3 separate regions of the Homo sapiens genome follow, and all the other regions are linked to region 3. The links come from fine-mapping of genetic effects on gene expression. A gene starts in region 3. Each other region holds a variant in brackets. All regions are shown on one strand. Distances are between the middles of the regions.

Region 1 (2,764 bases), 330 kb after region 3:
TCTTGAAGAATGACCTGCCCTCCAAAAGCTTGTTACAGGAGAGATGATATAGGCATGAGCAAAAAATGGTGAATGTGCTTGTACCCAGCAGTGTTAAGTAAATTCCGATCTTTGCTGTGAATTGCGAGTGAAAAGTTTGGGGTGAGTATTTTATTTTTCATTGAGAAGTGAAATAATTGTTAGTTTGTTTAGTAGCACTGGTTTTTGGGAATTTTTTTTCTTTTTTGTCTTTACACATTGCAGAGTAGCAGTAAAGAAATAGGTTGGTCTTTTAAAGGGTGTATTTCCTGCTTTTAATAAACACAAGTTTTATGAGAAAAATAAATAAATTTCAATATAAAATTAAGATGTACAGAATATAGATTTAGCACATATAAAAAAGGAAACAAAAATCATTTTACCTTCACTTTAGCCTGGGCTGATTTAACAAAACACCATAAACTGGGTAGATTTTTAACATCAGAAATTAATTTCTCATAGTTCTAGAGGCTGAGAAGTCCAAGATCAAGGTGCTGGCAGATTTGGTGTCTGGTGAGAGCCCACTACCTCACAGATAGCCTTCTTCTCACTGTAACTCACATGGGAGAAGTGGCCAGAGAGCTCCCTGGGACCTCTTTTATAAGGGCACTAATGCCATTCAGGAGGGAGGGCATCACCCTCAGGACCTCATGACTTCCCCAAGGCTCCATGTCTGAACATCATCACCTTGGGGGTTAGGATTTCAACATATGAATTTTGGATTGGGACATAAAGAGTCTACTGCAAATTTCTTCATGTCAGTCACATTTTAACCAAAATCATCTTACATGGACTTCTCTAGAGGTAGTTATATTTTTTAACCAACTGCACTTTTATATGATAACATATTTTTATATGCCACCTGCAAAAGGGCTACCTAATGAGGCCACCTATTTTTTGTAAGTGTAAGAGACTCAGCTGGAAGCAAGTTCAAGTGTGAAGCACTGTCCCCTCTCTACCTGGGACATGGTGCATACAAATGGGAGTAACATGAGCTTTGCAGGGGTCATCTTGGCCTCCTGTCCCACCTCCACCACTTACCAGTCATCATTCATTATTGTTATTCCATGAACAATGCCACCCACAAACCCAGAGTGACTCTCAGTTCATTGCTTGTCTTCACCCAGCGTAATGCCAGTTGTGTGTCCTTAACATCTTTCTCATCTCCTTATTTTGTCCTCACTTCTCTCCCCACTGCCAATGTTTAGGCCTGCAGCAACGATTTCCTAAATTGCCCACCTTCCATCCAGCTTCCATCACACTGCTAGAGTAACACTTCAGAAAATCCAAGTTCAATCCTATTAAAATCTTATTTTAATCAGTCGTCTATTTAATTATTTTTATTATTGCCCATTACTAGGATAGAGAATTCCAAGTTTGTCAAGTAATGAACTGCATGATATTCCTGGTCTCTTTATTCAAAGTCATCTCCTACTTATACCCCTAATGTGTGCGCGCACAC[A/G]CACACACACACACACACACACACACACGTACACACCATCTTGCCTTCCAGGCACCCTCAGCCACCTTTACTACTCCTGGCATGCTGTCTCCTGCACAAGTCTCATTGCCTTTACCCTCTGTGGAATTTCCCTCTCTGTGCTCTTACCAGATCACTTTATAAAGTTATTTTTAAATATGCTTGTGAAAATAAATGAAGATCACATGAACAAGAACAGAGGTGATTTATTTAGAGTTTGCAAGAGAATCAACCACTATCAGTTGCATTTGGCACAGACTTAAAGGAACACAGAAAGATAGGAAACCTTTAGAGTGAAACAAAGAGCAGGTTCCAGGTACGCTGTGGCATGAGGAAGCTGGAGTTGAGCTAACTAGATGTGAACATCTGATGTGGTTGGTTTGGGAAGCAGATCTTGCTTCCTCCGGTTGATTCTGAGTTGAAAGGAGGGAGCCAAGAATAGGGAAGCTGGCAGTCATTGACTGTATCGTGACTGTTGGGGCCAGTTGCTGTAGAGGTTGTGGTTTGGCTTCCAGCTGGTTGCTGCAGAGGTGGTGCTCAGAATTCTGTTGTCATATATTGTCTGGCCATTGTCCGTTTGTATATTTCATCTCTCATGATCAATCAATATTTTTTGAATGAGTACATGAATATTTCATCTCAGTAAGTGATCATTCCCTCCTCATCCATCTTAATCATAAAATTCTAATGTCCTAGGTTCTTTATCTTTCAACAAATTATGTTTCCCTTTCTTAATGGGTAGAAAAAGGAAGCTTCCCCATAGGCCTAAATGTGCTGATTTCAAGAGAAAGCATACTTCTTTGCAACAAGAAATTGCCCAGGCCTTCACTCTTAACCACTATGCTACATCAACGTCCTTAGATGAAACAGAGACTTGGGGGCATATATTTCCCAATTTTTCAAAATCCATTTTTATCGCATATTCAATTTGGCCTGCTTACCTTATTTACATTACCTGTCTGGGATGAAAGACATTTGAGGTTGTCATTCTGGACTCTTAAGTAAGTTCTTCCTTTAAAGTAAAGAAGCTGACCTTCCAAGCTAATTTATCCCACTTAACAAGAGTAATAATAACACACCACCCACTCCAGAAAGGAAATCATGCAGATGAATGAAATAATGTTTGTACAGAGCTTGACACTCCATAAAATACTCTAATAACATGGTGTCTACACTTTGAAATGTTCAAATCCTATTTCAATAGAATTAAAAGCCATGAAGAATAAAATGTGAATTGCTTGTCAGACTTTTACATAGAGGTGCAGG
Region 2 (2,764 bases), 310 kb after region 3:
TATCAGATAGCTAGAAGGAGGATATTTAATGTTCCCCACACAAAGAAATGATAAATGTTTTTGATTTTATATATATATATATATGATAATTACCGTGATCTGATCACTATATGTTATATGGATCGAAACATCACTATGTACTCCATGAATATATACAATTATTATGTGTCAATTTAAGAAATTAAATTAAAAAGAGAAATTAACCCAGCCTCACCATTTTACAGCAGAGGGACTTGAGGTGGAAAAAATTCAAGAAACTTTACTCTCGTCATTCAACGGAGTGATCTTTTGAAAAAGGTAGCATTACAAGAAATCCAGTATATACCCACAAATACGTGGCCACATTTCTTGACAATGTTCCAATTATTATTGATATCTACAATTAGAATTAAATCGTTGTTTCTAACCAGTAATATTCCAAGTAAAGTAGTAACATTGTTTATTCATTGGCATTAGGCATCTATGGTTAGCTCTACAGAATTATAGTTGAAATCTATGTGAAAATATCAATTTTTACACTTACCGACCATAATAGGATACTTACAGAAGAGCTTGATACCAGACTGTCAGCCAAAGATTTTCTGAATTTGGTATGAATTTTCTAAAGGTGGAGTGATTTGCTTCAAGAGAAAATTGCTTTGAGTGCATTTTGCAGTCAAGAACTTTGACACCTTGCAATTTACTAGTTGCAAAGATAATCTGATCACAAAGTAAGAAATCTGATCGTTGTAATTCCAATTTATATCAATAAGAAATAATAAATAATCTTTATTTTGGAGGTTTGCTAAGTGACTGAAAGTTTATCTAAATACAGACGGTTTTGCATGAACGCTAGGGACTGAATGAAACACTGTTTGCCTACCAATTAACCAGGCAGGTGTGAAACATAAGCAGTGACCGACCATAACAGACGATCTCTCAGATATTGATCACTCTTTTAACAGAAAAATTCCTATGGGCAGATAGAGGAGGGGGAGAGGGCAGCATTCTCTTGAGATTGTCTTAGGGAAGGATGATCATGAAACTCTTTATATCTGAAAAAAATTTTAAATCCTTTTAAATATCAATCCAGGAGGATTAGCTAAGCAGCAATAAAGCACCTTATAACTGTTACATAGTTAATTCAAAGAAGCATTGTATCAAGATAAATAAATATAGAAAACAAGGAATCCATTTTCAAGAAACATACTTTGTTCTAGT[T/C]CTGACTTCAGATTTAAAACACACACACATACGCAGAAGACACACTGAATATGATTGAATCTAGAATATAGAAATAAAATAATTGAATATATTCCATTTGTTAATGTGTGCATGTGTTTTCAAGACATGGCTCAATGATTCTGTAGTTTTTTCCTTATTTTTATTTTGAGAATTTTCTAGAAAAAATATGTCTTAAATACTTAATTTTTACTTCTTGGTTATCTTAGTCCATTTGTACTGCTACAGCAGAATACATGAGATGATAATTTCTAAAGAACAGGAATTTATTTTCTCACAGTTCTGAATACTGAGATGTTCAAGGGGCCGGCAGGTTTCGTTGTCTGTGAGGGTGGCTCTCTGCTTCCAAGATGGTTCCTCTAGAGGAGGGAACACTTTGTCCTGGCATGGTGGGATGTGGGCTCAAACCCTGTATGAAGCCTCTTTTATAAAGGCCTTAATCTCATCTTTGAGAGAGGAGCCCTCATAACCTAATCAGCTCTTAAAGGTTCTACCTCTTAATACTATCACAATGGCCATTAAGTTTCAGCATCTGAATTTTAGAGGGGACATACTGAGGCAATAACAAACATTATGTTTTTGAGAAGGTCCCATTTTTTCTTAATTTAAAGCTCAGTCCAATGAATATCTGTAACAAAGGGTTAGTGAAATCCCAGTCCAAAATTATCATCTTTTGAAGGTAATTCAGATGGACATTTCTTGAGTTATCAAAATGTATAATATTATCTATTCAAATCTTTTCTGTTTTATTAATTAAACTCAGGAGATTAAAGTACCTTGCCATGACATTGAAACTAGTAAAACAGCCAAATATGAAAACCAAGCATGCTGGGAAAATCCTAATAATGATGGAATGGCTACCAAGTCTTTGTTATTCCCTTGGATAGTAGCACACCTTGGAAAGACTTAGCAAAGCCCAGATTTCAGGAAAGTAGAAAAATTGCATTTAATGCTTTGATTATAAAATTATCTTGTGAGTTTCTTGTTTTTTTTTTTGTTTTTTTTTTTGAGATGGAGTCTCGTCCTGTTGCCCAGGCTGGAGTGCAGTGGCACGATCTCAGCTCACTGCAATATCTGCATCCTGGGTTCAAGCGATTCTCCTGCCTCACCTTCTCGAGTAGCTGGGACCACAGGTGTGCGTCACCACACCCAGCTAATATTTTTGTATTTTTAGTAGAGATGGGGTTTCACCATATTGGTCAGACTGGTCTTGAACTCCTGACCTCGTGATCTGCCCGCCTTGGCCTCCTGAAGTGCTGGGATTACAGGCGTGAGCCACAGCACCTGGCCATCTCGTGAGTTTTAATGCAACTGGCAGTTGACTGTGGGTCCTAACCATGGGCTCTGTTTTTCTCAAATGTAAAATTATTGGCCGATGTGGAAGACCATCCATCCTGTAGGGTGAGGCCCTGCTTTTTATAAGGTAATGGAAGAGTATGCTATTCAATATCAAGTTAAAAATAACTTTTACCAGTGTGGAAAAGAAATGAGCAGGGAAACCTATTGACCATTAGGCTTAGTTTTCTGTTTGGTGCCCCAACTTCAC
Region 3 (2,764 bases):
ATTGGGCCTTGGAGTCCTGAGGGCAGAGAACAGGGAGAATGAAGGATTAAGAGAATGTAGTGTTTCTCTCCATTTTTCTCTCTTCGTATTCTTTCTTCTTTTTAAAAATCAACCTTTTTGAGATATAATTTATTTAAAACAAACTGCACTCAATTTAGGCGTACTTACAGAACTTACAAGTTTTGATAAACACACACACGATATAGAACATTTCCGACATGCTCATCAGGTGCTCGTAGCCCTTCCCTGTCCATCTCTACCTATCCCTGGCCACAGGCAAGCTTTCTGTCAACATAGAATATCTTGCCTATTCTGCAATTCCTACACATGGAATCAGGCAGCATACAGTCTATCGTGTCCGGCTTCTTTTACAAAGCTTAAAGTCGCGATTCATCCCTGATCTTGCATGCCCACTCATTTTTATTGTGGAATAGTATTCCAATATTTGGGCATACCACAGTTTGTTTATCCATTCACCTGTTGATTGACATTTGCAGGCTACTAAGAAGAAAGTTCTTCACATCACTTTACAAGTCCCTGCAGACTTGAACGTTTTCATTTCTTTTGGACAAATACTTAGGAGTGGAATTTCTAGGTTGTATGATAAGTAAATATCTTACTTTATAAGAAACTATTCTCCAAAGTGGTTTTACTATTTTATATTCCCTCCAGCAATGAACAAGAGTTCCAAGCTATTTCTCTCTCCGCCCCCCCACCTCCCGCGTGTGTCTCTCTCTCTCTCTCTTTCTCTCTCTCACACTCACTCACTCTCTCTCTCCCTCTCCTCTCTCTCCTTAATAAAAAAAAAAAAAGAGTTCCAGTTGCTCCACATCCTTTCAAGCATTTGGTATTACCAGTCTTTAAAATTTTATCCATTCTGGTCCTCCTCTTTCCCTTCTTCCCTCCCTCCCTCCCTTTCTTTCTTGAATTGAGAAATGTTTGTGGAAGGAGTGAAGACAAACATTCCTGGACCTATGTTCCTAAATGAGCAAGTTTCTATTAATAAGACTCTCCCCCACCCGCCACACATCCTACACACTCAAGGAGAGGAGCGGGAGAGGGCACCCTCTTTCTTCCTCGGAAAATAAAACCTTTGCTTTCTTTAGGATGGGCTTTCTGTCTCGAAAGCACAACGTAACCGTTTGCCCGGGTTTCAAGATCAGCGCGCTGCAAACTCTCAGGCGCGGCCAGGTTTCCTCAAAGAGCCTCTCAACTGCGCTCTTCTCTGCTGATAAATGATAATTCTCTTCAAAAAGCTGGTTTGTGGCTGGCGCTGGAGAGCTCCAGCTAGAGCCAAAAGCCAGGGGTTGCCTCTTTGGTTCCTCCCGATGGGCCCCTTTTCCCAGCCAGTTGGGATCCAAAGACGCTCCGGAGCTCGAGCCCAAATTCCCAAGAAAACCCCAAAGAGCGTAAGGCTCCTGGGGACCCCTAGCACCTCTGCAACCAGGGCACGGGGCATGCTCAGAGCGAATGCGGGAGGCAGGCGTTGGCTGCAATGGGGCTCGGGAGCCAGGAGGTGCCGCTGCGTCCCCGCTTCCTGGCGCCTGACCCAGCGTGCAAAGTTGGGCTGGGAGCCGCGGGGGGAAGGAAGGACCCAGCGAGCGAGGGTGGCGGGGAAGGGGGGCGGGGGGGAGGAGGAGGGAGGAGGGAAAAGAGCGGTTAGGGGGGGCGCCGGGCGTGTGTCACTCGCTCTCTCCCTCTGTGTATAGAGGATGTGCTGAATGGTGCGCTTTGAGGCGGCGGCGGCGGAGGAGCAGAATCCGCCGCGACTGGCAGCCTCGGCTGACCGGCTCGGCTTCTCTTCGCCTTCCGAGGCTCCTCATCCACCGCGGGCTCCAGACCTCGCGTCCCGCCCGGGGCATGGCCGGGCGCTGCGCCCCCGCGCGCTCTGCCTGCTGAGCGGCGCCGGAGGGAGGTGCGGAGGCCGGGAGGCCGGGGAGGCCGGCGGGGAGCAGAGTCGAGCGCCTCCGGAGCAGAGAAAGGAGCCCGCGCCCCGCGCCCCGCGCCCCGCGCACGGTCCCCAGTCCCTGCCGCGCTCGCCCGGGCCGCCCGGAGCCCAGATGAGCCCAGATGGCCGGGGCTCAACCCGGAGTGCACGCCTTGCAACTCAAGCCCGTGTGCGTGTCCGACAGCCTCAAGAAGGGCACCAAATTCGTCAAGTGGGATGATGTAAGTATTGGGGCGGCCCGAGTCGGGGCGCTGGCTCGGGCACCGGGCAGGGCGGGCGTCGTGGGGGTGGGGCAAGGGGCGCGTTATGCAATGGGCGCACTGGGAGCGGGCAGGGGCAGCCTCGGGCGCACAGGTTGGCATCTGCCAAAGCGGATGTCCAAGGGCAGAAGCTTTGCGCGCGCTCCTGTTTCATCGGGCTTCAGTAGTTGCCATCCTTTCTGGGTCTGGCAGGCGCCCCCTGAGGGTCTTACATCTTTTGGGCCAGTGGAGAGGGAGGGGCAAGCTTTGCCTGGTGACAGGTCCTGAGAGTTCGGAAAGTAGGGAGTGTGAAGTTGGGACCAACTGGAAAGCGCCTGGTGTGAACAAATCGCGTCCCTCTCCGCCTGCGGACGCACCCCCTATTACCTCTTTTGCCCGATTTCAAGAAGGAAGGACCTGAAGTTCAAAACACTTTAGTGATTGCGAACCCTCTTGGCGCTTTTGTGGGAGCCAAGGCGGCGGAGGACACAACGGTCCAGCCAACAGGTGGTCGTTGATGCCAAACTTCAGCGCCTGGCTCCGGAGTGAGGGTCCCTGAAAAGGGCTGCGGGGACAC

The links. PIP is the estimated chance that this variant, and not a neighbour inherited with it, causes the effect.
Region 1: its variant is the best candidate, but not a certain one, in a credible set for the expression of PLCB1 in neutrophils (BLUEPRINT, PIP 0.54).
Region 2: its variant is the best candidate, but not a certain one, in a credible set for the expression of PLCB1 in whole blood (TOPMed, PIP 0.63).

What each region holds. Positions count from the first base shown.
Region 1 is chr20:8,456,240-8,459,003 of GRCh38, forward strand. All of the region lies in intron 3 of PLCB1 (phospholipase C beta 1), which reads left to right. It overlaps LOC124900459 (a long non-coding RNA gene), which reads left to right. Exons shown (of 2, transcript XR_007067518.1): 2 at 1-2,764. Among named protein-coding and RNA genes, the nearest start is that of PLCB1-IT1, 210 kb to the left of the region's middle. The variant A/G (reference allele first, on the strand shown) is at 1,481.
Region 2 is chr20:8,440,772-8,443,535 of GRCh38, forward strand. The region is part of intron 3 of PLCB1 (phospholipase C beta 1); the gene reads left to right. LOC124900459 (a long non-coding RNA gene) reads left to right here. Exons shown (of 2, transcript XR_007067518.1): 2 at 1-2,764. Among named protein-coding and RNA genes, the nearest start is that of PLCB1-IT1, 190 kb to the left of the region's middle. The variant T/C (reference allele first, on the strand shown) is at 1,201.
Region 3 is chr20:8,130,582-8,133,345 of GRCh38, forward strand. PLCB1 (phospholipase C beta 1) reads left to right here and starts at 1,685. Exons shown (of 32, transcript NM_015192.4): 1 at 1,685-2,169. The coding sequence starts at 2,071. RefSeq lists a silencer at 1,771-1,910.